2 separate regions of the Homo sapiens genome follow, and region 1 is linked to region 2. A link means that fine-mapping ties the variant in region 2 to the expression of a gene that starts in the linked region. Tissue or cell type: lung. Region 2 holds a variant in brackets; the other region holds the start of a gene. All regions are shown on one strand. Distances are between the middles of the regions.

Region 1 (2,626 bases), 220 kb before region 2:
ACTCCCGTTTTTTGGTTGGTCCAAAAAATTCCCAGCAGTCCAGGGATCTCTGTGGAGTTCTCAGTGAGTGTTCTGTGTAGGGTGCAGGAGCCACAAGTGACTGCAGGGGGAAAGGGGGGTTCTGGTGCTGGCATTCTGCAGCAGTGGGATTGTCCTCTGTCATAAAGAAAGAGAAGGCCGAGCGCGGTGGCTCATACCTGTAATCCCAGCACTTTGGGAGGCCGAGGCAGGCGGATTATTTGAGGTCAGGAGTTCGAGACCAGCCTGGCCAACATGGCGAAACCCCGTCTCTACTAAAAATACAATTAGTCGGGCCTGGTGGCACATGCCTGTAATCACAGCTACTCAGGAGGCTGAGGCAGGACAATCGCTTGAACCCGGGAGGCGGAGGTTTCAGTGAGCCGAGATCGGGCCACTGCACTCCAGCCTGGGCAACAAGAGCGAAACTCGTCTCCAATAAATAAATAAAATCCAAAACGCTGGGACTTGAAGTGCCCTCCTTTCAATCTTGACCCAGGTAAAACTCAGGACAAATAAAAAGAAGTAGAAGCAGTAAACTTAGGACATACAGCATGTAAAGGTTCTGAACGCAGGAGTAAATGACTTCAAATAGCTTTTGTGGCCTTTCGCCAAGGACCGGGCCCTCCCTGGCAAGCTGGGGCCGGGTCTGACCTTCCAGGTTGGCGTCAGCAAGGACCACCCTGCCCTTCAGTGGCCGGACACGACCTTGGGCTTTCGTGCAGTAGCCTGGCTGCAGGCCAGGTCGAGTCCGCCACCCCGGGGACTTGCACCGCCCTTCAGAAACCGAAACCTGCTCGGCCCCAGGAGGCGGACCGGGAGAAGGGGGGGGGGTGTGTGTGTCTCGGGACGGGGGCGTGGTCTAGAGGCGGGGGCAGGGGAGGAGCCTCGGGTGGACGCGCGTGCGCAGGCCGGAGCCTCGGGAGGAGGCCGGGTACCCGGGGTGCGGCGCGCGCGGGAGGAAGGCGGGGCCTCGGGCGAGGGGCGGGGCCTCGGGCCGGGGGCAGGGGGCGGGCGCAGGCGCAGGCGCGGGCGGGCGGGGCGCGGGGCGCGGGGCGCCGGGGGCGGGGCTCCGAGCCGGGCTGAGGCGAGCGGGGGCGCGGGTGGCGCGGCGGGACGCGAGCGGCGAGCCGGAGCGCGGAGCCCGGCTCCCGCACCATGGAGGAGGACGACAGCTACGGTCAGTGCGCCCCGGCGGCGGACGCTTCCCCCTCGCTGTCCCCCAGTCCCCTCCGGGCCCGGCCGTCCGGCAGCGCTTGCGGCGGCTGGCGTTTCCCGGGGACACTGGTGCGGGACGCGGAGCCCGGGGCGACCGGCGGGCGAGCGGTGCGCGGGGCCCTCGCGGGGCGGGGGTCGCAGGGGGTTTTGAGGGATGAGGGTCGCCGGGGCCGGGGTCGCTGGCGGCGCTGAGGGATGTGGGTGGCTGGGGCGGGGGTCACAGGCCGGGCTCGCGGTCTCGCGGGGCCAGGGGTCGCCGCGAGCTCTGAGGAATGAGGGTCGTTGGGGTCGCGGGGCAGGATCTCAGGGGCTCTGAGGGATGAGAGTCGTTGGGGTCGCTGGGGTCCCCGGGGCAGGGGTCGCAGTCCGGGTCCCGGGGGGCCGAGGGGTGGAGGTCGCTGGCCCTGCCGCCCCTCTGCGGGGCTCGGGGCGGACGCGCGGATGGCCGGGCCCGCGTTCCCCGCAGTTTCCGGCCGCTCTCGGCGTCAGCGAGTTGTGCCCGGTCCACGTCTTTGTTCAGAAATGAGAACGGGGAGCGGCGCCGCCGGCGAGGCGCGGGCTCCGGGACGGCCCTGCCCGCGGGAGTCTGGGCCCGGTAGCCGCCGGTCCGGTGCGTCGCCGCCTGCCGAGACGCGGGTGTGGAGCCCGAGGGGCACCGCGGTGGGGACGCCGCTCCTCCCCTGACTGGGGACTTGGCAAGCGGAGCCGCTGTCCCGCTCCCTTCGCTCCCGCGCGTTGAGGCTGCTGGCCCAGGCCAGGGGTGCCTCCCTCCAAGAGTTTGAAATTGCAAGGGTTGCAAAAGGTTGTTTGACATGCTGTAGTTAATTTATTAAGTTTGTTCATGAGGAATTAAAAGGAAGAATGGCAAATAGAACAAGTGGTGAACTTTTGTGGTTTGGTAGCAAAGTACAAATAAAGCAGAACTCTGTGGCCAAATGGAACCCAATTCTAGTTTAATAACTAATGGGACATTTTTCTTTTTTTTTTTTTTTTAAGAGACGAGATCTCGCTCTGTCACCCAGGCTGGAGCACAGTGGCGTGATCGTAGCTCACGTCAGCCTCTTGAGTGGCTGGAACCATACGCACGCCACCATGCCCGGCTAATTTTTTATTTTATTTTATTTTATTATTTTATTTTATTTTATTTTATTTTTGAAACGGAGTCTCACTCTGTCGCCCAGGCTGTAGTGCAGTGGCGCCATCTCGGCTCACTGCAACCTCGGCCTCCTGGGTGAGCTGAGCGATTCTCCTGCCTCAGGCTCCTGAGTAGCTGGGACTACAGGCGCGTGCCACCACGCCTGTCTAATTGTTGTATTTTTAGTAGAGACAGGGTTTTGCCATGTTGGCCAGGCTGGTCTTGAACTTCTGACCTCAGGTGATCCACCCGCCT
Region 2 (2,500 bases):
TTGGATCGAGTTGGTGTTCCAGGCAAAATATCAATGAATGCAAATTAATACAGCACCTCCTTGCTGTGGTTGAAAAAATTATTCAGTTATACTTGCTAAAGCAAGATGAGGCTGACTTGATTCAGACCTTACTCACGATTTATACCATCTCAATAGATACAGGTGTAGGGAGAGCGATGGGAGCTCAGCTTTGAATACACTGCAGGTAAGTAGGAATTTCTAGCAAAGGAGCAGGGTGGGAGTCCATGGATAGAAAATTACTTAGAGGGGACATCAGGGGTTGGGGGATTCTAGCTAAACCAACTTCAAGATTCTAGCTGGAAGCAGGTTAGGGTAATCAGACATCCCCTGCGGGATGGTGGAGGATGGAGACCCTGATGAGAATCTTTGGCTAAGCAAAGAATCTGGCAACATTCCCTTTCTCAGAAGGCTCTTCCCCAGGTAGCTGCATCTAGTTGCAGGGTCCTCACTTCCTTCCTTCCACTCAAATGCCCCCAGGCTGGTCCCTTCTCAGCAATGGCCTTCCCTCATATTCATTTGTATACTAATGTCTGTGTGTTCGTTGTCTTCCTGACTAGAAGGTAAACTCCCTGAGGTCAGGCACTGGATTTGAGTTCCCTTAGAACTGAGCCTAGCACAGGGCAGGCGCTTCTGAGTATTTCCTGCAGTGCACAACTGGCTCTTGACAAGGGAGGCTGGTTGTTCTGAATGTTGTTGGGAGGTAGTTTCGCTCTAGCATAAGCCTTCCACGTGGAGCCCCTGAAGGATAACACAAAAGCGTCAGGACTGCCCCAGCGCAGAAGGGTCCCAATGGAGCCAATTCTTTCATTTGGAAACCTCACTTTTGGGTCTCCAAAATTAAAGATGGGGCACAGGCTTATGGGCTGGGCGGGCGGGCAGCTGGCTTCTGTGGCTCCTGCACCCCTAACACTGGCTCCACGGGGAGGTGCTGTGACTCCCTGCTGCTGTTCCGATGTGGAAAAATCTGAAAAATTAAGTAACTTGGTCACCCGGCCAGGGCCAGATGAGTCCCCAGAGTCTTGCTGTC[C/G]CCAACATGGAGATTGTGCCACCTGCATCTAGTTTGGCACAAGGGGAAGAGCAGATAAGGACCAGCGTACGGGTCTGGGCTGAACCTCCCCCAGGGTTCACTAGGGGATCCGGCAGTGGGGAGGGAGCTGGGTTGGCGAGTTCAACTTTGTGACCCCTCGGGAGCCCTAGGCCCCTACCCTGTGAGGAGCAGGAGGTCCTGGAAGAAACCCAACCCGACCTCTGCAGAATGGAGCTAGCGAGGAACAAATGCAGTCACCCCGCCCCAGGCTTTCCCCTGCATCCCTGGCACCTGTTAGGGTCAAGAGGGGCTTTTGGGCTCTAAAAGAAAGATCTCTTTTTAAAAATTTTCACGTATGTTTATGCTCAATTTAAAACAAAGAAAAGCGGAGGGGAGGGAGGCAGGGGGAGAAATAACTCTTGTAACCCATTTCCATCGCCATCTGTTCACGTTTCTCTTTGACCTAAGAACATTTTCCCCCTGGTTTGACAGCCCTGTGCTCTAAATAGGATAGGGCCCTGGGGTTTCTCTCCCTTGTTGTCCCTTCCAGCCCCTGCCTGTTCCGGAGTTAGTTCTCATTATCAGCAACTCGCACACAGCCAGGAACGTTCTAGAGCAATTTTCCACATGATCTCCTTTTGGCGGAAAATAGAATTCGCTTCCTTTCCAAAAGTCATTAAACTAAAAACTATATAAACATGAAAAGGAGGAGAGAGAAATGGGAAGACAGAGAAAAATAAAAATGCCTCCCGCCTCGGCCCCTCAAAGTGTTGGGATTACAGGTGTGTCGGTTGTCTGGATGATGGGTCTTCAGGTTTTTGGGGTTTTTTTCTATTTTTCTGACTTCCAAGTAAAACATCTACCCGCATTACAGGATAGTCATAAACCATTAAGAGGAACATTTTTTTTTTCCAACTGCCCCATGTCAATGCTTTGAACAAATGAAACTGGTGACCTCATACGTCAGCAGGCGACCGTGGAGGAAGGCGGTAGCTGGCAGGACACCAGCGTTTCCATGTCTGCCTGAGAGTCCACGGCTGCTCCATTTGTACAACTCACAATACAAATAGGTCCAAGGGTGACAATTTTTTTCTAAGCCCAGGAGAAATCAGAATTTGGGTAAGGAAGATTTGAACAATTTTGAAAAACACAATTAACTTAAAAATAGCCGCAATCTTGCATTTGGGAAATCTGTACTCTTGGGGGCCTGAAAAATCTCCCTCTCTTCGCAGTCATGTTTTGGTTTTTCCTCCTGTGGCCATTTCTAGGGACAGTGGTCACCTTTCTCAGACCCAAGTCTGGGGAAAGTCTGAGACTCAGGCTCACCGCAGCTGGTCTGGCCCCCATTGGGCGTGGGTTATGGCAGCCCCGGGAAACTCTCTTGGATTTCCCACTCACACCCAGCACTGGGGGACCCTGTTTCGTGTGAGGTTGTCTTCCCTCTCTCTGGTC

Which allele goes with the higher level. Positions count from the first base shown, and alleles are read on the strand shown. Sizes are in standard deviations (SD) of each study's normalised expression.
For the expression in lung of the gene that starts at base 1,127 in region 1, allele G in region 2 goes with a higher level than allele C (small effect, 0.36 SD a copy in GTEx).

What was found. PIP is the estimated chance that this variant, and not a neighbour inherited with it, causes the effect.
Region 1: CYTH1 starts here. The variant in region 2 is fine-mapped to the expression of CYTH1 in lung (GTEx, PIP 0.99).

The regions. Positions count from the first base shown.
Region 1 is chr17:78,780,774-78,783,399 of GRCh38, reverse strand. CYTH1 (cytohesin 1) reads left to right here and starts at 1,127. Exons shown (of 14, transcript NM_004762.6): 1 at 1,127-1,198. The coding sequence starts at 1,177. RefSeq lists silencers at 868-1,027, 1,068-1,347, 1,608-2,007.
Region 2 is chr17:78,562,860-78,565,359 of GRCh38, reverse strand. The region is part of intron 11 of DNAH17 (dynein axonemal heavy chain 17); the gene reads left to right. Among named protein-coding and RNA genes, the nearest start is that of DNAH17, 13 kb to the left of the region's middle. The variant C/G (reference allele first, on the strand shown) is at 1,049.